Homo sapiens: one gene and its partners. The protein of the gene in region 1 interacts with the protein of each later gene in a biochemical or structural test. Each region holds a gene or a part of one and is shown in the gene's direction. Other genes may lie near its edges. The genes, in order: SPART, EPS15 and PLIN3.

Region 1 (10,427 bases):
GCATTAGATCAACTTGTGCTAGCTCTAAGGAGTTAAATGCGGTATTATTAAAGACTGCTTGTAATGTTGACTGTTAAGTGAGAGTGTTACTTCTTTCAGTGTTTATGGAATCGAACTAAATTGCTAGGTATTTTAATGCAGAATTTTACCTTTTCTCGGGTATTTTTTAAGACATACACAGACATACATGTAGTTATGTTGAAATAAATGTGTTTTATTAGAACGTTAAAAAATTAGAATTTAGGTGAACTACTGGTATCGGAACAGATTTTGGTTTGTTGTTGAAGACTGTACACTGGTGTAGGTACTGTTTAATACATCAGATTGTCATTTCAAAGACTTTGTCTTCTTAACTTTGAAAATTAAATAATGTGAAATAATGTGATAATGGTTTTTATCTTTTCAGGACACTTGATTGACACTTAATTGTGCTTAGGAATAGAATAGGCTTTTTTTTAAGTCACCATCCTCCAATCCTTATTTCTGTAAAATGTATTTTCTGAGACCGCTGAGGATATAGCAAATCCCAGTCACAAAATAAAAATGTGATATTTTAATATAAACCTTTTTCTTTCTGTGTTGAGATTCCCCAGAGATTAGACTGAAATTGACCATTAGACTTATATATAACCTCTAGATACCCAGGCTCTTCTCTCGTGTATCCTTTTTTTCTCTTTAAGATGGAGATGTAGCAAGGAAGGTTATTAAGCAATCCTGTGGAATTAGCCCTCCCACTCCACCCCTACACACAGGCACACTCTTCTTTCTCAGTAGCCATCTTGTTCCCTCCATTGACACATTATTAGGAAATCTTTCATCACACCGTATGTAAAATAAGCTTAGAAATAAACGTATACCCAAGGTAAATATTGCTTCTAGCTATATTCCTTCATTATGCCTCGCTTCTACTTTCAAATGCTACCTATTGAAGATTTAAGCCACATGACTTTCTACGACGGGACACTCTGGGTTTTCTTCACCCCTCCCTCACTCTGCTGACTTGTAAACATAGTAGGACTTTTAGATTTGGAATCAAACACATCTCATCTAATTTTCATTTTCATTTTTCTTTTCTTTCTTTCTTTTTTTTTTTTTTTTAAAGAGACAAGGTCTTGCTCTGTCACCCAGGCTGGTTGGAGTGCAGTGGTGCAGTCATAGCTCACTGCAACCTTGAACTTCTGGGCCCAAGCGATCCTCCGGCCTCAGCCTGTGCAGTAGCTGGGATTACAGGCGAGAGCTCATTTAATTTTCTTGACAGATAATCTTCTGATCCATGAACTGATTTGAATGTATCATTTACTAGCTCTCTTCTTGGGCAAGCTGCTCAATATTTGTAAAACATTTTTAAAATCAGATATCAACCTCCAAGAGTGAGGATTGGATAACCTTAGAAGGGTGCCAGACACATATAGAGAGCTTAACAAAAGATAGTAAATTTTGGTGCTTCTGAGGGCCAGAGACAGACCATGTCCATTATATCTTTGCTATATATTATAGTTGTGAGTGATTTTTAAAGCAGTACTTTTAATTTGCTTGTGAACCCCCAAATAATTTTTGTAAAACTGTCCCTCTTGCACACTTTTGGTTAACTTACAGCATTTTACATCATGCGTTAGTTGAAAAGAATGCAGTTTCCCACATGGTATTGATATTAACATTTTAATATTGGTACATCATTCTTTCACCTGTATTCAGTGGGGTATCATATCTTTGTAGTTTTATATCCATCACCATCAATTTTTAAAATACATTATATTTTACACACTTCCTTTTTTAAAAAATTTTACTTTTTTATCACCCCCACCCCACAGAATATTATCTTAAGGTAATGCATTTTTATGCTTGAAAGCTTTTTATTAATCTCTGTGATACATGGCTTTAATAACAATAGTTATATAAATTGAAGCTAAGTTTAAAAATTTCCTATAACTAATTCTGTAAGTTGTAATTTTTCTTTTGGGTTGAGTTATTATAAATAGTTGATTAGAATAGCTTAAAAACTTGATGGATTTTAATGAATAATAATTATTAAGAGTAGAAGTTTACTGGAAATCTGTGTCCTAATGGAATGGATAGTGGGAGTTGTGCCTAAATTAAAGGAGGGTCTTTGAGCCCTTCGACTTATTGTTTGTTGGTAGGGAGGCTTTTCCATCCTGGGGCAGTGTACCATAGTAAGAATAGGAGTGGGTGAGAAGTATGCCTTTATTTTGTAAAGTGGAAGATTGTGAAAGGATCTTGGGGAATAAAAATCAGCATGATAACTGGACAATGGGCATATTCTCAGGCAGATCAGTTTAGTGAGAAGTACTCATGGGAGTAAAGGATCTGGAAGCCTTTTTCTTAAAATTACACATGTCGTTGGTGTATGTCCCATGGAAGACTTCATTTGTCCTGGGGGGCACACATCCCCCAGTTTGAAGACCATTTAGAGTGGTAATTCTCAGTGGGGGACGATTTTGCTGCCCAAAGTACATTTGGCAATGTCTGGAGACGTTTTTGGTTGTCACAACCGGGATGAGGGGTGGTGCTGCTATGGGCATCCAGTGGACAGAGATCAGGGATGCTGCTAACAAAGCATTATCCAACCCAAAATGTCAACCATGCCAAGACTGAGAAACCCTGATTTAGAGGATTTGTTTTGGAATCAGACTATTTAATTCTGTAAACTAGTGCAGGGTCAGTAAACTTTTTTTGTTAAGTGCCAGATAGTAAATATTTTAGGCTTTTGGGGCCATGTATGATCTCTGTTGCACATTCTTCTTTGTTTTTATAACCTTTAAAAAATGTAAAAGTAATTCTTAATTCCAGGGTCTTTCAGAAAACAGGTGATCTAAGGCAATTAATGCTTGCAAACTTCAATTTTCTTCTCTGCAAAGTAGTACTAATAGTAATATTGCATCAAGAATTGTTTGTAAGGATTGAGATAAACACCTAGCATACTGTCCAGCATATGTTAAGTACTCTAAATGATGCGTGGGGATAGTGGTGTCCTATCGTATGTAGCACAAAAGTGGGTGCCAAGTCACAGTGTTGTTCAAGACCCTGTTCAAGTCATTTGGACAAATTTAATGATGCTGGTGAAGCTCCCAATCAACTCACAGATGCCTATTTAACCTCTGCTGTCTTTCTGCTGCCTTAGTCTGGGCCTCCTTGTATCCTGAGGAAGATAAAATACAAAATGCCTGTCTTGTGGTTTCTTTGGAAAGATGTGGCAATCTTATGACACAACAGGATAGTATTCCAGGAGAAGAGATTGTTAATATTGATAGGGGTTGTGGGGTAGAGCAAATACGTGGGTCTGTATATGGTCAATTGTATATGGTATTTTCTAAATTGGGTACTGAATATATTCTGTTGACTACCATGAAGTTGTTGCATAATAAGGCTGACTAGTGGCACTTCAGGTTAGAAAGTATAGTTATATTATTAATCGGAAGCTAGACCAATTTTAATGAATGCTTTCTGTGATGCTTCTGTGCTTTCATAGTGTAGATTGCTGCTAAAATAGTTTCATATCAGTGAAATTCTTCTATCGTAAGTTTTCATGAGATCACAGGAAAAGAATTGCCACATCTAATGACAGTAGCCACTAGGTACATGTGGATATTGAGCACTTGCAATGGGGTTAGTTGGAATTGAACTATCTTTTCAGTGTAAAACACATACTGAGTTTTGAAGACTTCATACCAAAAAAAAGAAAGCTAAAATATTTAACTGAAAGTTTTTATATTAACTGCATATTGAAATAATATTTTTGATATATTTGGATAAATAAGATACTATCATTGAAATTAACTTCACCTGTTTTTTACCTTTTTAATGTTATTAGAAAAGTATAAATTACATATGTGGCTTGCATTACAGTTCTGTTTGACATAGTTGCTCTAAAGCTTCCATTTACTTTTTTAATAGTAATTAAATTTTCTATCATACACATAGATTTAAGAAAAATCTTACCCCTTCCTCCCAAAGTCAGCTTGTATCATTTTTCTTACCCAATTCTTTTGGTCTTTTTTGTACTCTAAACAGTGCGAATATATTGGCACTTTTTCAGTTTTAGGCACTGTCCATTAACTTCTCAGTGAGAAAGATGAAGTTTTATCTCTTTCATCCTTTGTCGCATGCACATAAACTTTTTATCCATCCATCTTCCCATCTTTCAATATGGTTGTACCATAATTTTGTTTATATTGAGATTCATTGTGTATATTATGACACCAATCAAAACTGAAACATTTAGTACATTATGATTACTTTTTATTTCTTGCTCAACATCATTTTCCCTAGAGTTAATCCTTAGTTTTTAATTATTACTAATGGAACCCTGAATACTCTCACAGTTGTGTAGATCTTTTTTCAGAGCTTACAATCACATTAGGTATTCTATCAGTTTTACTTTCTTAAAAAATTCTTTTCTGTTGTCTCCTACTCCACCCTGGAGTGTTTGCCTAATTGTTATCTTGGAAACTCATCATCAGTCTTGGGATTCCTTTCATCAAACATGGTACCCAGCAAACAGAAGATGTAATAACTGAGCAATCACTTGGCTGGGTTTAGAAGCTATTTTTACTCAGAATTATGAATTAAATGTATAATTTCCTTCTTCTATTGTTGCCTTTAAGAAGTTCCTTAGCACTCTTACTTCTCTCTCTTTTTTTGTGTGTAAGTATTTTAAAGATGATCCTTTTGAGCTTAGTGTTCTAAAATGTCATGGTATGTTTCTTGGTGTGAAATCTTTTTTTCTTATTTATTTATTTATTTTTATTTTTTTGAAACAGAGTCTTGCTCTGTCGCCCAGGCTGGAGTGCAGTGGTGTGATCTCGGCTCACTGCAAGGTCCGCCTCCCGGGTTCAAGCAATTCTCCTGTCTCAGCCTCCTGAGTAGCTGGGACTACAGGCGCCTGCCACCACGCCTGGCTAATATTTTTGTATTTTTAGTAGAGACAGGGTTTCACCTTGTTAGCCAGGGTGGTCTCGATCTCCTGACCTTGTGATCTGCCCACCTCAGCCTCCCCTTTTTTTCTTATTTTTTGCCCATTGGTTTTTTTATTTACTTTTATTTGTTAGAGATGGGGTCTTGCTCTTTCAACCCAGGCTGGAGTACAGTGGTGTGATCATAGCTCACTGCAGCCTTGAATTCCTGCACTCAAGTGATTCTCCTGCCTCACTTCCTGAGTAGCTGGAACTACAGGCACGCGCCAGCATGTCTGGCTAATTTTTTGATGTTTTCTTTGTAGAGCTGGTCTCACTATGTTGCCCAGGCTGATCTCAAACTCCTGGACTCAAGCGATCCTCCTGTCTCAGTCTCCTAAAGTGCTGGGATTACAGGTGTCAGCCACTGTGCCCAACCTGTTGGTCTTTTTAAATTAGGAAATTCATGTTTTCCAATTCTAGGAAATTCTATGAATTATTTCTTTAATTCTTTCATCCCTTATTTTTTCTCTGTTCTCTATTTCTAGGAGGTTTTTTGTTTGTTGGTTGGTTTTTTTTTTTTTTTTTTTTTTTTTGATGGAGTCGTGCTCTGTGAACAGGCTGGAGTGCAGTGGCATGATCTCGGCTCAGTGCAACCTCTGCCTTCCGGGTTCAAGCAATTCTCCTGTCTCAGCTTCCTGAGTAGCTGGGGTACAGGTGCATGCCATGATGCCCTGGAAATTTTTTTGTATTTTTAGACGGGGTTTCACCATATTGGTCAGGCTGGTCTCGAGCTCCTGACCTCAGGTGATCTGCCCGCCTCAGCCTCACATATTTCTAGAAGTTTTATTATTCAAATGATATGCCTTATAGACTGGGTCCTAATTTTCTTATTTATTATTGCCTATTTTTCATCTCTGTCTTTTTGCTCTGCTTTCTGGGCATTTTCTATAATTGTATGACCTCATCCTTCTTGAGTTTTTCCTTCCTGCGTTTTAAATATTTAATTTCCCGGAGTTCCTTTTGTCACTCGAATATCCTTCTTTCAGTATGCACGCATCCCACTTTTTATTTTATGGATGCGATATTTTCTTTTTCTTTATGTTGATATAAATGATAGGGTTTTTTTTTTTACGTTTCCTGCACATTGTCCATTTCAACCAAATTACATTGCTCTTCTTTTAATCCTTTATACTGGATGTTTGCCTCATGTTTTGTGATCCTGGGCTGTGTGTGTGTCTGTGTGTGAGTGTGTGCGTGTGAGTGAAGCACTAGAAAGCTGATCTGAGATTCTATGGGTGGAACCTATCAACTATGGCTTCTGAACGGTGAATTGCTTGGACAGTTTTCCTTAGGGAACTCTCACTGTCACTATTCTTTGTGTCTTTCTTCTTGGTGATGATCAGATTCCTCAAGAAGATAACTTCCAATCTCCTTTCTTGAGGGGTACCTGGCAGCCAAAACTCTAATTACCAAGTTGTGGGGAAGAAGGCTGTGGGTCTCAATAATCAATGTGTAACATTTCACTTAATCCCCCTGCTTTTGGTTTTTACCCTTAATCATGCCTGATAGTTTCTTATCCTCACTTTATTTTACACTCTTCTAGATCAAAGCACTCAGTCTTTCAGGGCTGTAGAGAAACAGCGTCCTGATTGCTTGGTGTAGGAAAGATCTGAGGGTGCTAATTTGTAAATAGGCTTTCAACCAGTCCTCTTTTTTCAGCTCTTTGTCTACTTCCTTTCCATAGGAAGATTGAATTCCATCAATTCTTATGCCTTTGGAGGTTCTTGATGTGACGTAAGTGCAGCTGCGTCTCTGATTTTCCCACTGACAGTTTAAAGCATCTGTTTTCTCAAGTGTGTTTTGGGAGTTTTCACTTGTCTGCCTCCTTTTTTGACACCAAGTACTGTTGACTTTTCATCTTCCCTATTTGTCCTTGTGAGTTATGGCTTTATTATTTATCTGTTTTATTGAGGAATCACATAAAATGCATATAGTACCCTGATCTTAAATGTATAGTTTAATGATTTTTATGTATATATACAGTAGTCCCCCCTAACCCCTTATCCAAGGGAGATAAGTTGCAAGACCCCTAGTGGATGCCTGAAACCATGGATAGTGTGGCACCCAATTGCTTTCAATTGGAACATGTTTCTGTTCATATCTCAGCCTTTTCCATCTTAACTAAACACTTGTCACATGCTTTGACCATAAGTTTTGCAGTTTGAGGGACAACAGCAAAACTGGCACTAATTTCTTTTTCCTTCTTCACAATTTCAGGAATAGAAAATATGTTATTAATGGTAGATCTTAGCAACCTCAGCATATGATTTTTTTTCTTGTTAAGTTGAAAACTTTAACCTTTTCACTTGAAGGAAGCACTTCACAGCTTTTCAGTGTATCAAAATTGCCAGCATCACTACTGTTGCACTTTGGGGCCATTATTAAGTAAAAAGAATTAGTTGAATCCAACCACCACAATATCGGAACAGTTGATCTGATAACCAAGATGGCTACTGTATTAGTCCGTTTTCACACTGCTGTAAAGAACTGCCCAAGACTGGGTACTTTATAAAGAAAAGAGGTTTAATTGACTCAGTTCTGCGTGGCTGGGGAGGCCTCAGGAAACTTACAGTCATGGCGGAAGATGAAGGGGAAGCAAAGACCTTCTTCACATGATGGCAGGAAAGAGAGAGCTAGCAAAAGCTGGAAAAACTGCCTTATAAAACCATCAGATGTTGTGAGAACTCACTATCAGGAGAACAGCATGGGGCAAACTGCCCCCATGATCCAGTCATCTCCCACGGGGTCCCTCTCTTGACACCTGGGGATTATGGGTATTACAGTTCAAGGTGAGATCTGGGTGGGGACATCGCCAAACCATATCAGCTACTAAGTGATCATGGGAGGGGAGCATAGACAGCATGGATGCCCTGGACAAAAGGATGATTCATGCCCCAGGGGGCACAGAGAGAGACAAGAGGAGATTTAATCATGATACTGAGAATGTGCAATTTAAAATTTATGAATTATTTATCTCTGTAATTTTCCATTTAATATTAATATTTTCAGATCATAGTTGACTGCAGGTAACTGAAACCACAGAAAATGAAACTATACATAAGTGGGGACCACTGTACACCCTTGTAGTCATCACTCAGATCAACAAGAGAACATTTCCAAAGGCCATGAGATTCCCTCCTGTACCTGTGAAGTCTGTAGCCTCTACCTATAAGCACTATTTTGATTTATGTCATATCATAGACCAGTTTTTCCCATTTAATTCATTCATGTAGAATCATAGTATGTGGTCTCAATATGAAGTCTTTTGTATTTGGCTTTTCCTCAAAGAATTGGTGAGATTCATTGATGTTGCAGGCAATCAGGTTTAAAATTTTTTTTCTGTGTATTATTGCATTGTATGAATGAGTGAGCATTTGGGTTGTTTTAAGGATTTGCTTTTTGTGAATATAGTTGCTGTGAATATTGCCATACATGTTTTTGGCATGCACATGCATCCATTTCTCTTGGTTATATACCTGCAAGTGGAATTGTTGGGTCATTGAGTGGGTGTTTAGCTTTAGTAGAAACTGCCGGTTTTCCAAAATGTTGTATCATTTTTCAGCTTTCACCAGCAAGGTAGAAGAGTTCCACTTGTCTTCACTTAGCACTAATCAGTCTTTTAAATTTTAGCCATCTGTTAAGTGCCTAGTTGGTATCACTCGATTTTAGTTTCACTTTTCTGAGGGAATAGTATGTTGAACACCTTTTCAGATGCTTTTTAAAGATTTTCTTCTGTGAAGTGCCTATTCATGTATTTTTCTCACTAAGAAAAATGGTTGTTCCTTTTTCATAATCTTTCCAGAGTCATCTTAGTGGGATTTGGGGAAGCAACAGGGCTGTGTGGGGTAACCTGCCACCTTTAAGTGGAAATCAGGTAACAAAGTTTCATTCACTTTTTTTTTCTCATTTCTGTTTTCCCCAGTCTATGATTCAATTCATTTTTTATTGGCTGGATATAATCTGGATTTATATTATAATGAATTTTAGAATGAGACTCTTGTTTCAACCATAAGGATGTATGATAGGAAACTATTATAAGAAACCAGAACAAGAAAATTATTTAATAGATGTATTCTGATTTATTCTCTTATGTTTTTAAATTAAGATATTTTGGACCAAGAGTTTTCATTTATTTATCCATTCATCAAATACATGTTAAGTGCTTTCTTTATGACAGACCTAATAGTAGGCTTAAAGGATAGTATAATAGTGAACAAAACAGAGATAAGCGAGGCACTTGTCCTCTTAAAATATATTCAGGTAGGAGATACGAATCATAAGTAAACAATAGCTAAGCAAGATAATTAAATATGTCTCCAATTTTGCAGAAATGGAGCAAGAGCCACAAAATGGAGAACCTGCTGAAATTAAGATCATCAGAGAAGCATATAAGAAGGCCTTTTTATTTGTTAACAAAGGTCTGAATACAGATGAATTAGGTCAGAAGGAAGAAGCAAAGAACTACTATAAGCAAGGAATAGGACACCTGCTCAGAGGGATCAGCATTTCATCAAAAGAGTCTGAACACACAGGTCCTGGGTGGGAATCTGCTAGACAGATGCAACAGAAAATGAAAGAAACTCTACAGAATGTACGCACCAGGCTGGAAATTCTAGAGAAGGGTCTTGCCACTTCTCTGCAGAATGATCTTCAGGAGGTGCCCAAGTTATATCCAGAATTTCCACCTAAAGACATGTGTGAAAAATTACCAGAGCCTCAGTCTTTTAGTTCAGCTCCTCAGCATGCTGAAGTAAATGGAAACACCTCAACTCCAAGTGCAGGGGCAGTTGCTGCACCTGCTTCTCTGTCTTTACCATCACAAAGTTGTCCAGCAGAAGCTCCTCCTGCTTATACTCCTCAAGCTGCTGAAGGTCACTACACTGTATCCTATGGAACAGATTCTGGGGAGTTTTCATCAGTTGGAGAGGAGTTTTATAGGAATCATTCTCAGCCACCGCCTCTTGAGACCTTAGGGCTGGATGCAGATGAATTGATTTTGATACCAAATGGAGTACAGATTTTTTTTGTAAATCCTGCAGGGGAGGTTAGTGCACCTTCGTATCCTGGGTACCTTCGAATTGTGAGGTTTTTGGATAATTCTCTCGATACGGTTCTAAACCGTCCTCCCGGGTTTCTTCAGGTAAGCGAAAGAAAAATGAAAGCATAATTTGAAATACGTGTAGACTACATCATTTTTATTTGTTAATGTTTATGTGTCCAGTATAAGTGCAAAAAGATAACGACAAATTCTACTTTGTTTTTAAATATATTCCATGAAATTATGAGCCTTGAACATGTTTGTGTTTGTCTTTTTCTTTTTTTAAAAAAGATATATTAATAGTTTTATTTTGGTATTAAGTTTGTGATGATAAAACTTGAGAAGAGTGGTCATCCTTACATTTTTAATTCTTTATCTGAAGAAGAAATCTAATAAGTTTAATTTCGAAAGGGATT
Region 2 (10,427 bases), on another chromosome or scaffold:
TGGGGTATTAATAAATAGCTATAGTTTAAATACATAGTGAAGTGTTTCACATTATGTAAAAAGAATGTAAGTCTTTTCTTTCTGTCAGTCTCATGCGTGTTTCCCATTAGTTTTTCCCACATACTAAAATCCTATGATAGTTACAGTAATTGCTTAATTAAGCCCCTGGAATGTGCTAGGCATTGTACAAGATTTTGGATAATCAAAGAAAGATGAAGCATGGACACTGTCCTTTAGAAGTTTGTAATTTAGAGGTTAGCTATGATTACAGTGTATTAAGTATGACAGTAGAGGTTAGGAACAAACAGTAGAGTTTGAGCATAGGTGAAGGAAGCCCAAGATGAGTCAGACGAGATTAAATTTGGCTGGATTCTGAAGAATCAATAGTGGGTTTCCAGGTACATATGGTGTGGAAGGACATTGAAGACAGAGGTTATGGCTTGTGGAAAGGCATAGGGTCATTGAAATATGTTGTCTATTGGAGAAGGAATAGGGTCTTCTGAGGCTGGGACACAGGTGAATATGAGAGGAAAAGAAGGTAGAACCCAGAACTGAAGGTTTTAATGTGTCTTGCAGCAAGTTTTACTTAATCCTCTAGATAAGAGGGAACAACACATATTTTAAAAATAACAGTGACTAGAGAAATATCCTTTGCAGTGAGTTATTTTTTAAGCAAGTTGGACATTTGGAATAGGAAGAAACAAAGGGAGAAAACCCAGTTGTATGTCAAGGAAGGAACGATGAAAGCTAAAATAATTTGGTAAACAGCTTAAAGAGAGATTTTAAGGTAGAATCTATAGGACATGTATGAATGGAGAAAATCAAAGATGAATCTGAAGTTACTAGACTGGGTGATACAGAAATTGAAGTCATTTTTCTCTTTTGGCATGGGTTTATTCAGAGCCAATGCCATGTGCATATCTAAAGTCGTATCTCTATATGGTATGGATTAGTTAACAGTGTAGGCAAGGTTAAAAATTTAGACATGAAAAAAATTAGGCATGCTGGTAAATTAATGATAAAGTACTAAAGGAGTTCACCAGTTTGAAACTGTGATCACACAAACTCACGGAATGTTAGCACTGGAAAGTCTTTCATGATCATCTATTGTGTTGGCATTTTTAAAGGAATTTTTAAAATAAATTATAGTAAATAATTGATAAACATTTTTGTCAAAGGAATCAGAAAGAGAACATCTAATTCTTTTTTATTATTATTATACTTTAAGTTCTGGGATACATGTGTGGAACGTACAGGTTTGTTACATAGGTATACATGTGCCATGGTGGTTGGCTGCACCCATCAACCCATCATCTAGGTTTTAAGCTCTGCATGTATTAGGTATTTGTCCTAATGCTCTGCCTCCCCTTGTCCCCCACCTCCCGACAGGCCCCGGTGTGTGATGTTCCCCTCCCTTGTGTCCATGCGTTCTCATTGTTCAGCTCCCACTTATGAGTGAGAACATGTGGTGTTTGGTTTTCTGTTCCTGTGGTAGTTTGCTGAGAATGATGGTTTCCAGCTTCATCCATGTCCCTGCAAAGGACATGAGCTCATTCTTTTTTATGGCTGCATAGTATTCCATGGGATGTATGTGCCACATTTTCTTTATCTAGTCTATCGTTGGTGGGCATTTGCATTGGTTCCAAGTCTTTGCTATTGTGAATAGTGCTGCAATAAACATACGTGTGCATGTGTCTTTATAGTGGAATGATTTATAATCCTTTGGGTATATACCCAGTAATGGGATTGCTGGGTCAAATGGTATTTCTGGTTCTAGATCCTTGAGGAATCGCCAGACTGTCTTCCACAATGGTTGAACTAATTTACACTCCCACTAACAGTGTAAAAGCGTTCCTGTTTCTCCACATCCTCTCCAGCTTCTGTTGTTTCCTGACGGGTTAATGAGAGAACATCTGATTCTTAAGAAACCTAGGCAAAGCAAAACTCTATATAATACAATAAAGAAAAATTCAATTTAGAAGGGGCATAAGCATATTTAACTAAGATTTAAAATGTACTTATTTCCTCATTTAAAATTTCTTCTCCTTCAATATTATAATTTCAAGTCTCTTAAAATAAGGACTGAATTAAAATACAGAAATTGTTTTTCTTCCAGAAATCAAGTGTCCCTGTATCTTAAATTCTCTGTACAGTTCCATTTATCAGTCCTTTGTGCAAGAGTTAGCAATTCATGGCACAAGGGTCACTTTTTGCCTTTCTTTGCAGAGTTGATGATACTCATCAAACATTGTCCGAATTCCTCAAGTATCATTGAGGAATTCAAAGGCTACTGCCTTTGAGTTTCCCTTTTTGTCTGCCTGCTCTGCCTGGGCTTTAAAGGAATTTTTTAAAGAAAGCAACATGATATTTTTAGACTAACCAGTTGGTTAAGAAAATATAAGATAAAAAGCAATTATTGAAAGCATTGTTCAGTGTTCTATTTAATCACAGAAACATCTGCATATATTTGAAAAATAGTGACACATGTGAGACATTTAGTCTGCAGATGGTATGTCACATGGTGGTTAAGAGCTCAGGCTGTGGAGTCAGAACCCACTTTGAATCCATAGCTTACTATTTTTAACTTTGGACACATTACCTACACATCAGTACTTCAGTTTTCTCATCTGTAAAATATGAAATGATATCAGTACCTAACTCGTAGATCTGTCATATAGACTATAAATAAGTTAGTATATTTAAAGAGCCTAGAGCACAACCTAGCACATTTTAAGTAGCATTTAAAGTGTTGGCTATTATCATAATGGTGCTATCTTGTGTAACCTATGCAGTAATTCAGAGACCTTTTACCTGTAAGTTTCTCTTCTGTTCTTAGATTCTTATTCTGGTGAATGACTGTTGGGACCTTTGAATAGATATTATTTTTAGAAATTTGTGTTCAGTTTTACCTCACCCGCTTTGAAATCTTTGCCTACCTCCTGCTGACAGATACTTCGGAGTTATTAATCCCTGAGCCACTGCGCCTGGCTTTTTAAAAATTTCTGTAGTTCTTGTTATTAAGCATGAGGTCTGGTATGTACATGGATGAATAAATAACATTTTCAAAATGGTTCTTTTTTTGTTTTAAGAAATCTTTTCCTACACTGAGATCTGCATTTCTTCTACACATTTTAAAGTTAGACTTTTACATTCAGGTCCATTATTTACCTGGAATTAATTTTTCTTTTTTTTTTTTTTGGAGACAGTGTCTCACTCTGTTGCCCAGTCTGGGCATGCTGTGGCATGATCACAGCTCACTGCAGCCTTGACCTCCTGGGCTCAAGAGATCCTCCCATCTCAGCCTCCCAAGTAACTGGGACCACAGGCACGTACTACCACGTCCAGCTAATTTTTTTTTTTTTGAGATGGAGTTTCACTCTTGTTGCCCAGGCTGGAGTGCAATGCATGATCTCGGCTCGCTGCAACCTCCACCTCCTGGGTTCAAGCAATTCTCCTGCTTTAGCCTCCCGAGTAGCTGGGATTACAGGCATGCGCCACCACGCCCAGCTAAATTTTTTTTTTTTTTTTTGCATTTTTGTTAGAGACAGGGTTTCTCCATGTGGGGTTTTTTTTTGACCAGAGAATCTGAGAGGGGAAAGATTGAGCTTAAAACAGATTTGTGGGGAAATTCCAGGAGTTCTATTTTCAACATGTTAGCAAAGCCCATCACATGTCCAAGGACAGATTTGAGTTAGCAAATTGAATATCTAAATATGGATTCTAGGAAAGATGTCTTCAAGTAAAGATTGTATTTAAAGCTGTTAAGTACCCTAGTCTCATCAACACAGTATACTCAGTAAGACTTTATTCTTTCTTAAGGTAGATTTAAAATTACTAACTTAACCCTCCCCTGCCCGCAAAGAAAATAAATATATTAATTTTCTTGGATTTTAGGATCTTCAAGATGAAGTTCAAAGGGAGAATACTAATCTGCAAAAACTACAGGCCCAGAAACAGCAGGTACAGGAACTCCTTGATGAACTGGATGAGCAGAAAGCCCAGCTGGAGGAGCAACTCAAGGAAGTCAGAAAGAAATGTGCTGAGGAGGCCCAACTGGTAATGTCTGGCTGTTTCCTGCTGCCTGCACCTATACATTAGTTGCTTTTCCTGGCTTAAGATGAAAACATTCTCTACTTTTTGTTATTGATGGTGGTGGTTGGCAATCCAGTCAGCATTTGGGTTCATGGGGGCGATGGAGCAAGGTTCATCCAGAAATTACAGGCCTTCTTTAGAGGAAATAGAAGGGCAGTTAATGAACTGTTTTTCCAAATTTTTGTTGGAAATATGGTGCCTATACCTTCAACTCTCCTCTGTCCCTCCCCCAGTTACCCTTCTTTACGAAAACCATACATCAAAAAACATCATAATTGGCTGGGCACAGTGGCTCACACCTGTAATCCCAACACTTTGGGAGTCTGAGGCGGGGGGAATTGCTGGAGCCCAGGAGTTGGAGACCAGCCTGGGAAACATGGAGAAATCCCATCTCTACAAAAAATATGAAAGCTGGTTGGGTGCAGTGGCTCACGCCTTTAATCCCAGCACTTTGGGAGGCCGAGGCAGGCGGATCACGAAGTCAGGAGATCGAGACCACGGTGAAACCCCGTCTCTACTAAAAATACAAAAAATTAGCCAGGGCGGTGGCGGGTGCCTGTAGTCCCAGCTACTCGGCAGGCTGAGCCAGGAGAATGGTGTGAACCCAGGAGGCGGAGCTTGCAGTGAGCTGAGATCACGCCACTGCACTCCAGCCTGGGCAACAGAGCGAGACTCTGTCTCAAAAAAAAAAAAAAAAAAAATTGAAAGCCAGGCGTGGTGGCCCACATCTGTAATCCCACCTACTCGAGAGGCTGAGGTGAGAGGATCACCTGAGCCTGGGAAAGTTGAGCCTGAAGTCTGAAGTGAGCTGTGATCGTGCCATTGCACTCCAGCCTGGGTGACAGAGTGAGACTGTCTCAAAAAAATAAAACATCAACAACAACAACAACATCAAAAACTCCATAATAGGGCTAGGTATGGCTGGGCATGTTCCTATAGTCCCAGCTACTCAGGAGGATCACTTGAGCCCAGGAGTTTGAATCCAGCCTGGGCAACATAGCAAGACTCTCTCTCTCAAAAATTAAATTAAATAAATTATTTGCTATTGCTGTCAAAAAAAACACCAAAATAGTAAACTAAACAAATAAATGTATTGCATTTTGGAACATTTTAATGACATCTCTTCTTTTAATCCCCATTTCTTCTCATTCACTTTCACATTATAGATCTCTTCTCTGAAAGCTGAATTAACTAGTCAGGAATCGCAGATCTCCACTTACGAAGAAGAATTGGCAAAAGCTAGAGAAGAGCTGAGCCGTCTACAGCAAGAAACAGCAGAATTGGAGGAGAGTGTAGAGTCAGGGAAGGCTCAGTTGGAACCTCTTCAGCAGCACCTACAAGATTCACAACAGGAAATTAGTTCAGTAAGTCTTTGTAAAGCAAGAAATATATTCAAATGGATCCTCTGTGTCCTTTAGTCAGTTATACTTTCCAACTTCTGCTCCTTCAACCTCTTGCCTAGTTTACTGTTCATTTTTCAGTCATTTTATACAATAGGTTTTTTTGTCACCTGTTATATATTGAAACTATCATACATCTTGTATATCTATCTGATGATTATCATTGGAGTAGTGATTAAGAGTGTGGGCTTTGTGGCTAGATGGTCTAGGTTTAAGTACTGGTGTGCCACTTACTAGCTAAATCACCTTAGTATCAGATTCTTCATCTTCAAAATTGGAGGATTAATAAATACCCTACCCCTTAGGGCCACTGTGAGGATTAATGAGGCAAAACCTGTAAGACATTTTAGCATGGTGCTTGGTACATAAATGCTCCATAAGTGTTGCCTGTTTTATAAACAATAACCTAGTTTCTTCTGTTTTGTGATTCTAATTTTGAATTCACATTTGCTAATTTGGAAACTTTTTTCTTAAGGAAATTGTTCCTTCTGTAGATAAATTTGCAGTGTTATAGTTGGTCTTATGTATAGATCCTTTGCTTTATTTCCAGGTTTCCCTACATGAAGACTAATGTTTTAATGAATGATAAGATAGTTAGGGCTCGGCATGGTGGTGGCCCATGCCTGTAATCCCAGCACTTTGGGAGGCTGAGGCAATGGATCACTTGAGGCCGGGAGTTCGAGACCAGCCCTGCCAACATGGCCAAACTCTGTTTCTACTAAAAGGTACAAAAATTAACTGGGCATGGTGGTACCTGCCTGTAATTCCAGCTACTTGGGAGGCTGAGGCACGAGAATCACTTGAGCCTGGGAGGCAGAGGTTGCAGTGAGCTCAGATCACACCACTGCACTCCACCCTGGGCAACAGAGTGAGAATCTGTCTCAAAAAATAAAAACTAAAAAAAAAAGGATAGAAACACAGAGATCATGGAGTTGATTTCTTTCATTATGAATTTGAACAAACTAAAGCCAAGGAAGTTCAAGTAACTTTCTCAAGGTTACATATCCTTGAAAAGAGCTACATCTAAAATCCAGTTCTTCTAAAACCCAGTCCAGTGTGCTCAGTTATTACATATAATGAAGTCCTTCACTTTTGCGCTTCCTTACCCCCTGTTATCTGGCAGCTGAGTACCTACCTACTCATTCGTCATGCAAGATATACCTTAAATTCTTATTTCTTTATGGTATTTTCTGCATCCTGCTTTTGTTGGACTTTGTATTTATGTTACAGCAATAATAAGATTTTTCCCTGCATATTTGCTTATATGTCTGTCTCCCCTAGCAGAGTCATGGTTTTGGTCTGGGAACTTACACATTTTTAAAAATCCGTATCATTTAGCACAGTTCTTGTCCCAGTGTAGGTACTCAATAAACAGGTAACCTGAAAGAGTTGTTGTAGTGAGAATGCTACCAGATGAATGGGTATTCTTTAAAGTATTTTCTTTTTTTGAATCTCTTTAAAAAAAAAATCCATGTATACTAAAATTTCAAGAGAGAAATACTTATTGTCAGAAATTACTGAATCTTTTCTCTAAGTCACGTAGCATTCCCAGAGGATTCTTCTTAAAGGAAGCAAATGTATCCTAGACCAAGTCTACAGGTATAGCCATTTTTATTTTATTTATTTTTTTGAGACAGGGTCTCATTCTGTCACTCGAGTGCAGTGGTGTGATCATGGCTCACTGCAGCCTTGACCTCTGGGCTCAAGTGATCCTCCCATCTCAGCCTTCTGAGTAGCTGGGACTACAGGTGCACTCCATCATGCCCAGCTAATTTTTATATTTCTTGTAGAAATGAGGTTTCACCGTGTTGCTCAGGCTGGTCTTGAACTCCTGGGCTGAAGCAGTCCTCCTGCCTCAGTTTCCCAAAGTGTTGAGATTATAGGCATGAGCTACCACACCTAGCCCGTCAGGAAGTGGAGGAGGGCGTTTTTATGTTACATGTCTTTCTAGTAATAAATTCTGTTCTATATTTCTTCTTTGTGTTGGCAGATGCAAATGAAACTGATGGAAATGAAAGATTTGGAAAATCATAATAGTCAGTTAAATTGGTGCAGTAGCCCACACAGCATTCTTGTAAACGGAGCTACAGATTATTGCAGCCTCAGCACCAGCAGCAGTGAAACAGCCAACCTTAATGAACATGTTGAAGGCCAGAGCAACCTAGAGTCTGAGCCCATACACCAGGAATCTCCAGTGAGTCTAATACTTTCATAACCTTCATAATCAACCTCCTTGTGCAGATCCAAGTTTCACTGACATTATATCTAATATAAATACATGGCCTTGCCTCATCTGAGGACAATTGAGATTTCCTTTTTAGAAGCAGAGAGTCCTAATCCAAACAATTGTACGTTTTAACTAGTATAAAAAGATAACTTTAGCTAATTTTTTTTTTTTTGGAGATGGAGTTTTGCTCTTGTTGCCCAGGCTGGAGTGCAGTGGTGCGATCTTGGCTTACTGCAACCTCCGTCTCCTGGGTTCAAGCAATTCTCCTGCCTCAGCCTCCTGAGTAGCTGGGATTACAGTCACGTGCCACCACACTCAGCTAATTTTTTGTATTTTTAGTAGAGATGGGGTTTCATCATGTTGGCCAGGCTGGTTTCGAACTCCTGACCTCAAGTGACCCATCTGCCTCGGCCTCCCAAAGTGCAGGGATTACAGGCGTGAGCCACCACGCCCAGCCAGCTAATTTATTTTTTGTAGAGCCTGTTTTTAAAATGGTGGTTCTATAGAGTAAAACTTTTTTTTTAAGTACCCTCACCAAAAGCTAAAATTATTTTTATTACGTAGTGTTAAGGACATTCATTTACCAATTATTTGACGAGTACCAACTATGTGCAAGAGTGCTGTATTACATAATATAAGAGCTACAGAGACAAGAGACCTCAGTCTTTCCTTCAAGCAGCCTACAGTGTAGTAGTGTAACACTGTGTTAAAGGGCTGTGCTAAAGGAAGCGCAGAATTTTCAGTTAGGACAGTTTGGAGGGGGTTCATAAAGATTTTGTTGGGGAAAGCTTTGCGAGTTTAGACAAGTGAGAAGTGGTTAAGCAAAGAAGAGGAGGATACATTCCTGCCAGAGAAAACAGTATTAGTATAGGTACAAGGTGGAAGAATACATGCAGCACAGAATCTTGAGAAGTTCTGAAGGATATCTTGTGATGGTGGAGAGGGTATTGGTAAGAGATGAGGCGCTTCTAGTAGGCATCTGCATTACCTCTGGTGATTGTCAAAGTATAAATGTGTATCCCTTTCCCCAAACTTGCTGAACTAGTTTCTGGGATAGAGCCAGATATGTATATTTTAAAAACACACTCTATGGGTGATTGTCATGTGCACCTGGATAAAAATGACCAATTTTAGGTCAGAAAGTGCCAGAAGATGAGAAATTTAGATTCATCTTAAAGCATTGGGGGATTTATCCTACTGCAATGAACAGCCATTGAAGAATTTTAAGCAAGAAGTGACGTGATTAACTTTTAGAAATGTGGAAAACGGATTAGAGAGTGAGACTGTACCCGTAGAAGGGATAATGAGAAGAATAGAAGTTTGAGAGGTATTAAAAGTGAAAAGTTAACAGACTCGATTTTATTTACACAGTGCAGTCATGTATGCATTATAAAATATTCTTTCAAGCGCAAAAGGCAGATTACTAGGTTATCCTGCAAATAGATAAGGGTGGTATAAAGTAGCTATTGCCCTGCTACTTTTTTTTTTTTTTTTGAGACGGAGTCTCGCTCTGTTGCCCAGGCTGGAGTGCAGTGGCGCAATCTCAGCTCACTGCAACCTCTGCCTCCTGGGTTCAAGCTATTCTCCTGCCTCAGCCTCCCGGGTTTAAGCTATTCTCCTGCCTCAGCCTCCCGAGTAGCTGGGACTACAGGCGTGTGCCACCACACCTGGCTAATTTTTTGCATTTTTAGTAGAGACGGGGTTTCACCGTGTTAGCCAGGAAGGTCTCGATCTCCTGACCTTGTGATCTGCCTGCCTCGGCCTCCCAAAGTGCTGGGATTACAGGTGTGAGCCACTGCATCCGGCCTGCCCCTACTACTTCTTAAGTCTTTCACCCACTCGTCTAAATGAAGAAGACAATGGGAAGCCATTGAAGGACTTTTAACCAGAAGGGTCACGATCACATCCACATTTTAGAGCTATTAGTTTGGCTACAATAAGGAGAAGAGATTGGAAATACATGTATTGGAGGCAGGAAAGCAGTTGGAAGGAAGACTGCTATAGTAATTGGAACCAAAGATGATAGTACTATAAGTGATTGATAGTGACAGTGAGGATGGAGAAGAAGGCAAGGATTTGAAAAAGAGGTAAGAGGTAGACTGAGCAAGACTTGGAGTCATATTCTGAGGATTAAAGATGACCTGAAGGTTTCTGACATGAGTGACTTTGATGCTTGATGACACCATTTCCCTAAAAAAGATTATAGAAGGAGAAGTTATTTGATGAATACATTCTGCTTGTCTTTTTTTATTTTTAAATAGTTTTTGGTTATCTTTAGTCAGTTTTCTCTGCCATGTCAAAAAGTATATTGTTAATCTACTTGCATTAATATTTTGTAGGCAAGAAGTAGTCCTGAACTACTGCCTTCTGGTGTGACTGATGAAAATGAGGTGACTACAGCTGTTACTGAAAAAGTTTGTTCTGAACTCGACAATAATAGACATTCAAAAGAGGTAAAAAATGATTTTATATTTACATTGGGGACTTGTAAGGGTGGAAGGACAGGAGGAGGTGAATTATCAGACATTACTTAATGGGTACAATATACATTATTCAGATGATAGATACATCAAAAGCCCCGACTTCACCTTTAGGCAATATAGCCATGTAACAAAATTCCACTTGTGCCCCTTGAATTTATACATATAAAATAAATAAATGTTCTTAATAGCTGGATGTGGTGGCAAGTGCCTGTAGTCCCAGCTACT
Region 3 (9,254 bases), on another chromosome or scaffold:
CAGGCTGGAGTGCAGTGGCGCAATCTCAGCTCACTGCAACCTCCGCCTCCCAGGTTCAAGCGATTCTCGTGCCTCAGCCTCCTGAGTAGCTGGGACTACAGATGTGCACCACCACACCTGGCTAATTTTTGTATTTTTAGTAGAGACGGGGTTTCACCATGTTGGTTAGGCTGGTCTCGAACTCCTGAACTCAGGTGATCCACCCACCTCAACCTCCCAAAGTGCTGGGATTACAGGTGTGAGCCACCATGCCCAGCCTACAAGCACTTTTTAAGCCTTTGCTGGTTCCATCTGCTCATGTCCCATTGGCCAAAGCCAGCCACGTGTCCAGGCTCCCTTGCAAGCGCAGGAGAAATTGACACAATGGGAAGAGCTACAGGGGATGTGCAGCCCTTCTTTGCACCAACCACACAGAGCCTGAGTATGTCAATGATTAAACCAAAGGCCCCAGAGCTCACCGTAGCCAGGAAACCCTTCCTCCCTCCCTCCCTTTCTCTTTTCTAGACTGTCATGTAAGTCAGATGCTGGAAGGATTCCTTGGGTTCCTTCTGGAATCCCGTCTCTCCCAGGGGAGCCTCCTTCCCTCACTTCTCTCTCCCCTGCCCCAGATGGAAACTGTCAAGCAAGGCGTTGATCAGAAGCTGGTGGAAGGCCAGGAGAAGCTGCACCAGATGTGGCTCAGCTGGAACCAGAAGCAGCTCCAGGGCCCCGAGAAGGAGCCGCCCAAGCCAGAGGTACCCATGAGGGGACTGGGGGGTGGCCTAGGGTACTTGGAGTCCCGATGCCACTCTCTACACCTCTGCTTCATGGGCCTACCTGCTTCGAATGATTTCCCTAGCCTCACCTGCTTTTGGAAGCTAATGACACCTCCTTCAGGAAGCCTGCCTTGATTTCTCCTCTTGGGCATGCATAGGTATGGCTTCTGTTTTTTGTTTTGAGATGGAGTGTTGCTCTGTCACCCAGGCTGGAGTACAATGGCATGATCTTGGCTCACTGCAACCTCCACCTCCTGGGTTCGAGTGATTCTCCTGCCTCAGCCTCCCTAGTAGCTGGGATTACAGGCGCTCACCACCACGCCTGGCTAATTTTTTTGTATTTTTAGTAGAGACAGGGTTTCACCATGTTGGCCAGGCTGGTCTTGAACTCCTGACCTCAAGTGATCCGCCCTGCCCAGCCTCCCAAAGTGTTGGGATTACAAGCGTGAGCTACTGAGCCCGGCCCCTAGCAGCAACTTCTGACTAGTATTCTCCGGCCCCCTCCACTCTATCTCAAGCCTTGGCCTCTTGTGTTCTCTAATGGGTCTCGCTGCCTGTCCCACCACCCACTTAAGCTCCCCAGGGGCAAAGGAAGTTTGCAGTGAGCCGAGATCGCACCACTGCACTCCAGCCTGGGCAACAGAAGGAGATTCTGTCTCAAAAAACAGAAAATGTCCTGAAATTAGATGAAGGTAGTATTTGCCCAACCTTGTGAATGTATTAAAAACCAATGAATCGTACACTTCAAAGGGCGAGTTTTAGGGTGTGTGGATTATATATCAATTTTTGAAATAGTTGTTTATTTATCTTTGAGACAGGGTCTCACTCTGTTGCCCTGGCTGGAGTGCAGTGATGCCATCACAGGTCACTGTGGCCTCGCCATTGCAGGCTCAGGCAATCCTCTCGCCTCAGCCTCCCAAGTAGCTGGGAACACAGGCGTGTGCCACGATGCCTGGCTAATTTTTTTTTTAATTTTTAGTAGAGACAGGATCTCACTGTGTTGCCCAGGCTGGTCTTGAGCTCCTGGTGTCAAGCAATACTCCCACTTCAGCCTTCCAAAGCACTGGGATTACAGGCATGAGCCACCACACCCGACCCCAGATCAATTATTTATTTATTTATTTATTTATTTATTTTTTGAGATGGAGTCTCGCTCTGTCACCCAGGCTGGAGTGCAGTGGTGTAATCTCAGCTCACTACCAGCTCTGCCTCCCAGGTTCACGCCATTCTCCTGCCTCAGCCTCCCGAGTATCTGGGACTACAGGCGCCCGCCACCAGGCCCAGCTAATTTTTTTTGTATTTTTAGTAGAGACGCGATTTCACCGTGTTACCCGGGATGGTCTTGATCTGCTGACCTTGTGATCCGCCCGCCTCGGCCTCCCAAAGTGCTGGGATTACAGGCGTGAGCCACCGCACCCTGCCTATTTATTTATTTATTGCTCTGTTGCCCAGGCTGGAGTGCAGTGGCACAATCTCAGCTCACTGCAACCTCTGCCTCCTGGGTTCAAGTGGTTCTCCTGTCTCCACCTCCCCAGTAGATGGGATTACAGGCATGCGTCACCACGCCCGGCTAATTTTTGTACTTTTTAGTAGACACGGGGTTTCGCCATGTTGGCCAGGCTGGTCTCAAACTCCTGACCGCAGGTGATCCGCCCACATCGGCCTCCCAAAGTGCTGGTATTACAGGCGTGAGCCACCGTGCCCGGACCCAGATCGATTTTTTAAAAACTGAAATGAGATCATATCAAAAGCACATAGTAAGGGCTACAAAAGTGACATGCATAAAGATATGGTGAATATCTCTATAAATGCAAATTGTTCGGGAGGCAGAACTAGACCACCTGCTGCCTAAAACTGTCTCCTGTTTCCCCGACTGCTAAGCACAGCAGCCAGAATGACTTTTCAAATGAAAAAACCAGATCTTATCTCTCTCACGTGGGCACTCTCCCGTAATCCCTCGCTCAAGTCCAGAGTCCTCCAGCTGCCAGGGCTCTGGGCAAAACCCTACCTCCCAGTGTGTGCCTTTTTTTTTTTTTTTTTTTTTTTTGAGATAGAGTCTCACTCTGTCACCCTGGCTGGAGTGCAATGTCATGATCTCGGCTCACTGCAACCTCTGCCTCCCGGGTTCAAGCGATTCTCCTGCCTCAGCCTCCCGAGTAGCTGAGACTACAGGCACCTGCCACCACGCCCAGCTAATTTGATTTATTTATTTATTTTTGAGACAGAGTCTCACTCCGTCACCCAAGCTGGAGTGCAGTGGCGTGATCTTGACTCACTGCAGCCTCCACCTCCTGGGTTCAAGCAATTTTCCTGCCTCAGTCTCCCAAGTAGCTGGGATTACAGGCGCCTGCAACCACACCCAGCTAATTTTTTTGTATTTTTAGTAGAGACAGGGTTCTGTCATGTTTGCCAGGCTGGTCTAGAACTCCTAACCTCAAGTTATCCACCCGTCTTGGCCCCCCAAAGTGCTGGGATTACAGGCCTGACCCACTGCGCCCGGCCTAATTTTTGTATTTTTAGTAGAGATGGGGTCTCACCATGTTGGCCAGGCTGGTCTCGAACCCTGTCTGTGCTCATCTCACTCTCTGGCCAAGGAAATTTTCAAGGACCTGATTTCAACTATGTTCTCCCCGGATGGTTTACAACTTCTGCCTAGAAAGTTCTTCCAGGCTGTCCCAGCCTGGCTTCCACTTTTTGTTTTTTAACAGCTTTTTTTTTTCTTTTTTTTTTTTTTTTTTTTTTGAGATGGAGTCTCGCTCTGTCGCCCAGGCTGGAGTGCAGTGACGCGATTTCGGCTCACTGCAAGCTCCGCCTCCCGGATTCACGCCATTCTCCTGCCTCAGCCTCCTAAGTAACTAGGACTACAGGCTCCCGCCACCATGCCCAGCTAATTTTTTTGTGTTTTTTTAGTAGAGATGGGGTTTCACCATGTTAGCCAGGATGGTCCCGATCGTCCTGACCTCATGATCCACCCTCCTCGGCCTCCCAAAGTGCTGGGGATTACAGGGGTGAGCCACCGCACCCAGCCTTTTTTTTTTTTTTAACAGTTTTATTGAGATCTCATTTGCATACCATACAAGTCACGCATTTAAAGCATACACATCGCTGGTTCTCAGCATTGTGCAACTATCCCTATCTCATCTCATGCCCCTAAAAAGAAACCCTTTTCCCATCAGCAGTCACTGCCCCATTTCCTCCTCCTCCCAACCACGTATCCCCTCCTGTCTCTGGATGGGCCTGTCCTGGACATTTCATAGAAATGGGATCACACCCTGTTTGGCCTTTTGTGTCCGGCTTCTCGCGCTGAGCGTGACGTCCTTAGGGCTCACCCATGCTGTGGCCTGGGTCAGAGCCCCATGACGTTCCATGGCTGAGTCACATTCTGTTGTATGGGTGGATCACATTCTGTTCACCCATTTATCAACCGAAGGACACTTGAGTCGTTTCTACTTTTTGCTGTGCCCCTGTGTGCATGTCTTTGTGTGTGGACGTATGTTTCCGTTTCTCTTGTGCACACACCCACAACTAGAATTGCCGAGTCATATGATGATTCTATGGTTTAACATTTTGAGTAACCGCTAGACTGTTTTCCAAAGTAACTATACCACCAGCAATACACGAGGCTTCCAATTTCTCCGCCTCTTGACTGACAGTGGGTATCATCTGATAGCCTCTGGGGTTTTTGTTTGTTTGTTTGTTTTTGAGACAGAGTCTCGCTCTGTTGCCCAGGCTGGAGTGCAATGGCATGATCTTGGCTCACTGCAACCTCCGCCTCCTGGGTGCAAGCAGTTCTTCTGCCTCAGCTTCCTGTGTAGCTGGGATTATAGGCACATGCCACCACACCCGGCTAATTTTGTATCTTTAGTAGAAATGCGGGTTTCGCCATGTTGGTCAGGCTGAACTCCTGACCTCGGTGATCCACGCACCTTGGCCTCCCAAAGTGCTGGGATTACAGGCATGAGCCACCATGCCAGGCCTCCTTATGGTTTTGATTTGCATTTCCTCAATGACTTATAAGGTCAAACAGCTTTTCATGTGCTCTCCCTATATCTTCTTTGGTGATTTGTCTATGCCCTTTAAAGAATTTGACTAGTGGCCAAATGCAGTGGCTCGTGCCTGTAATTCCAGCATTTTGGGAGGCTGAAGTGGGCAGGTCACTTGGGCCCAGGAGTTTAAGACCTGGGCAACTTAGTGAGATCCTGGCTCTACAGAAAATTTTAAAAATGTAGCTGGGCGTGGTAGTGAGTGCCTGTAGTCAGGCAGGCTGAAATGAGAGGATAACTTGAGCTCAGGAGTTACAGGCTGTAGTAAGCTATGATCACGCCACTGCACTCCAGCCTGGGCGACAAAGTGAGATCCTGTTTCTAATTAAAAGAAAAGAGTCTGGGCGCGGTGGTTCATGCCTGTAATCTCAGTACTTTGGGAGGCCAAGGAGGGCCGATCACTTGAGGTAGAGTTCAAGACCAGCCTGGCCAACATGGTGAAACCCCATCTGTACTAAAAATGCAAAAGTTAGACGGGCGTGGTGGCACGCGCCTGTAGTCCTAGCTATTCGGGAGGCTGAGGTAGGAGAATCGCTTGAACCTGGGAGGCGGAGGTTGCAGTGAGCCAAAATCATGCCACTGCACGCCAACCTGGGCAACAGAGCAAGACTCTATCTCAAAAAAAAAAAAAAAAAAAAGGGCCGGGCACGGTGGCTCACGCTTGTAATCCCAGCATTTTGGGAGGCCAAGGCAGGCGGATCACGAGGTCAGGAGATCAAGACCATCCTGGCTAACACGGTGAAACCCCGTCTCTACTAAAAATACAAAAAATTAGCCTGGCGTGGTGGTGGGCGCCTGTAGTCCCAGCTACTCGGGAGGCTGAGGCAGGAGAATGGCGCGAACCTGAGAGGCGGAGCTTGCAGTGAGTTGAGATTGTGCCACTGCACTCCAGCCTGGGCGACAGGGCGAGACTCCGTCTCAAAAAAAAAAAAAAAAGTTTCGCCTATGGAAAGCGTTTGCCCCAAGGTCAGTGGTAGAACCCCTCTTCCCCTCTTTCCCTGGCTTCAGCTCCGATCGCCTTTCCTGAAACAAATGGTCCTGATTGGTGTCCCCATCTCCCTTCTCAGCAGGTCGAGTCCCGGGCGCTCACCATGTTCCGGGACATTGCCCAGCAACTGCAGGCCACCTGTACCTCCCTGGGGTCCAGCATTCAGGGCCTCCCCACCAATGTGAAGGACCAGGTGCAGCAGGCCCGCCGCCAGGTGGAGGACCTCCAGGCCACGTTTTCCAGCATCCACTCCTTCCAGGACCTGTCCAGCAGCATTCTGGCCCAGAGCCGTGAGCGTGTCGCCAGCGCCCGCGAGGCCCTGGACCACATGGTGGAATATGTGGCCCAGAACACACCTGTCACGTGGCTCGTGGGACCCTTTGCCCCTGGAATCACTGAGAAAGCCCCGGAGGAGAAGAAGTAGGGGGAGAGGAGAGGACTCAGCGGGCCCCGTCTCTATAATGCAGCTGTGCTCTGGAGTCCTCAACCCGGGGCTCATTTCAAACTTATTTTCTAGCCACTCCTCCCAGCTCTTCTGTGCTGTCCACTTGGGAAGCTAAGGCTCTCAAAACGGGCATCACCCAGTTGACCCATCTCTCAGCCTCTCTGAGCTTGGAAGAAGCCTGTTCTGAGCCTCACCCTATCAGTCAGTAGAGAGAGATGTCCAGAAAAAATATCTTTCAGGAAAGTTCTCCCCTGCAGAATTTTTTTTCCTTGTTAAATATCAGGAATATAGGCCGGGTGCGGTGGCTCACACCTGTAATCCCAGCACTTTGGGAGGCTGAGGCGGGCGGAACACCTGAGGTCAGGTGTTCGAGACCAGCCAGGCCAACATGGTGAAACCCCGTCTCTACTAAAAATACAAAAAAAAATGAGCCGGGCATGGTAGCAGGTGTCTGTTATCCCAGTTAGGAGGCTGAGGCAAGAGAATCTCTTGAACCTGAGAGGCGGAGGTTGCAGTGAGCCAAGATCGCGCCATTGCACTCCAGCCTGGGGGACAAGAGTGAGACTTAGTCTCAAAAAAAAAAAAAAAGAAAAAAAAATCAGGGATATAGTTCATATCCCACTTCTTTGTTTACACCGATGTCCCTGAATATCAGCCTGTAGCTAATGGACTTGGGATTTCTGGTCTAAGTGGGCCTCCTGGGGATGGGGTGGTACACTGAGCTTCTGAGCCTCATTGTAGAGTAGAAAGGTACTGGGGCCTGTGTGGTAAGCCTTGTTGAAATGCTCTGGTATTCAGTATTGCCTTAATAAACTTCACCCACAACTGCATACAGGCCATGTGTGTACGTGTGTGTGTCTTCATCTGTCCCTGCTGCTAGAACAGAAATATCTTAGGCAGGGTAATTTATTTATTCATTTATTTATTTTGTAGAGACGGGGTCTTGCTATGTTGCCCAGGCTGATCTTGAACTCCTGAGCTCAAGCGTTCCTCTCACCACGTCCTCCCAAAGTGCCTGGCCAGGCTGGGTAATTTATGAGCAACAGAAATTGATTTCTCACAGTTCCGGAGGCGGGGAAGTCCAAGATCAAGACACTGGCAGGCCTGGCACAGTGGCTCACGCCTGTAATCCCAGCACTTTGGGAGGCCGAGGTGGGAGGATCACTTGAGGCCAGGAGTTTGAGACTGGCCTGGGCAACATAGCAAGACCCCATCTCTACACAAATTTTTTTTTTTTAAGTTAGCCAGGCATGGTAAGGTGGGAGGGTCACTTGAGCCCAGGAGTTTGAGACTGCAGTGAGCCAAGATCGCACTACTGCACTCCAGCCTGGGCAACAGAGCAAGATACCATCTCGGAAAAAAATCCAAGTGACAATCTACAGTGTTTCTCTACGGTAGCTACAGAGAAGGGGAACTTCAGGGACTTCTCCCAGGGACATGGAGAAGATACATTCTCAGTCTTACTAAATACTGCTGGACTGTTGCCCAAATCATTGTCAGTCTTTTCACTCCCACCCTAAGTCCTGAGAGGGTTCATTTCCCCCATCACCAACCACATGTTACTTTCTCTTTGTTAATCCATATTCAAGTTGAATTCATATGCACCCAAGTATATGAATCTTAAAGGGACAGTTCAATGAATGTTACATAGGAATCCACTCCCTATAACCAACAGCCACAGGGATTACTGGTGCGTGCCCCACCATGCCCGGCTAATTTTTGAATTTTACTAGAGACGGGGTTTTGCCATATTGGCCAGGCTGGCTTTGAACTCCTGACCTCAAGTGATCTGCCCGCCTCGGCCTCCCAAAGTGCTGGATTACAGGCGTGAGCCACTATGCCAGCCTTTTTTTTTTTTTTTTTCGCTCTTTTTTGAGACAGAGTTGTACTCTGTTGCCCAGGCTGGGGTGCAGTGGTACTATCTCAGCTCACCGCAACCTCCACCTCCCAGGTTCGAGTGGTTTTCCCGCCTCAGCCTCCCGAGTAGCTGGGATTACAGGCGTGCACCACCACGCCCGGCTAAGGCTGGAGTACAGTGGCACGATCTCGGCTCACCGCAAGCTCCACCTCCTGGGTTCACGCCATTCTCCTGCCTCAGCCTCCCGAGTAGCCGGGACTACAGGTGCCTGCCACTACAACCGGCTAATTTTTTGTATTTTTAGTAGAGACAGGGTTTCACCGTGTTAGCCAGGATGTAATTTTGTATTTTTAGTAGAGATGGGGTTTCACCATGTTAGCCAGGCTGGTCTCAAACTCCTGACCTCAAGTGATCTGCCCACCTCGGCCTCCCAAAGTACTGAGGTTACAGGTGTGAGCCACCACATCTGGCCCCACCTCATCCTCTTGAGTATCTGGGAACTACAGGCGTGCACCACCACACTCAGCTAAATTATACACACACACACACACACACACACACACACACACAGATGTGGGTCTTGCTATGTTGCCTAGGCTGGTCTCAAACTCCTGGGCTCAAGCGACCTCCCACTCAACCTCCCAAAGCACTGGGATTACAGGTGAGAGTCACTGCACCTGGCTCTCACCCGATCTTTTTCCCAATCCCATCAGATAGATGCTATTATCTCCAGGGAAAATGAGGTGTAATCCAGAGAGCCCACCCTCAGCCCCACCTCAGCTACTAATAGCTGAGTAGTAATTTGAACTCAGGCCAGGCATGGTGCCTCACGCCTGTAATCTCAGCACTTTGGGAGGCCAAGGTGGGCAGGTCACTTGAGGTCAGGAGTTCGAGACCAGGCTGGCCAACATGGTGAAATCCCCCTCTCTATTAAAAATACAAAAATTAGCTGGGTGTGGTGGCACACACCTGTAATCCCAGCTACTGGGGAGTCTGAGGCACAAGAATCACTTAGCCCAGGATGCAAAGGTTGCAGTGAACCAAGATCACGCCACTGCACTCCAGCCTGGGCAACAGAGCGAGACTCTGTCTCAAAAAAAAAAAAAAAATTGGACTCAAAGAGTCAAGTTCTCTCCACGGTGCTTATAACCACCACATTTTAAGG

What was found.
Region 2: the proteins of SPART (region 1) and EPS15 form a complex in vitro, tested with the Homo sapiens proteins (one study listed by BioGRID).
Region 3: the proteins of SPART (region 1) and PLIN3 form a complex in vitro, tested with the Homo sapiens proteins (one study listed by BioGRID).

Annotation. Positions count from the first base shown.
Region 1 is NC_000013.11:36,334,707-36,345,133, reverse strand, and holds part of SPART (spartin), read left to right. Parts: intron 1-8,775; exon of another isoform or gene 8,776-8,847; intron 8,848-9,301; 5' UTR 9,302-9,303; coding exon 9,304-10,113; intron 10,114-10,427. UniProt on the Homo sapiens protein: Lipophagy receptor that plays an important role in lipid droplet (LD) turnover in motor neurons.
Region 2 is NC_000001.11:51,403,164-51,413,590, reverse strand, and holds part of EPS15 (epidermal growth factor receptor substrate 15), read left to right. Parts: intron 1-3,894; coding exon 3,895-4,056; intron 4,057-5,258; coding exon 5,259-5,456; intron 5,457-7,482; coding exon 7,483-7,686; intron 7,687-10,058; coding exon 10,059-10,172; intron 10,173-10,427. UniProt on the Homo sapiens protein: Involved in cell growth regulation. May be involved in the regulation of mitogenic signals and control of cell proliferation. Involved in the internalization of ligand-inducible receptors of the receptor tyrosine kinase (RTK) type, in particular EGFR.
Region 3 is NC_000019.10:4,836,148-4,845,401, reverse strand, and holds the end of PLIN3 (perilipin-3), read left to right. Parts: intron 1-608; coding exon 609-734; intron 735-5,865; coding exon 5,866-6,210; 3' UTR 6,211-7,061; downstream 7,062-9,254. UniProt on the Homo sapiens protein: Structural component of lipid droplets, which is required for the formation and maintenance of lipid storage droplets. Required for the transport of mannose 6-phosphate receptors (MPR) from endosomes to the trans-Golgi network.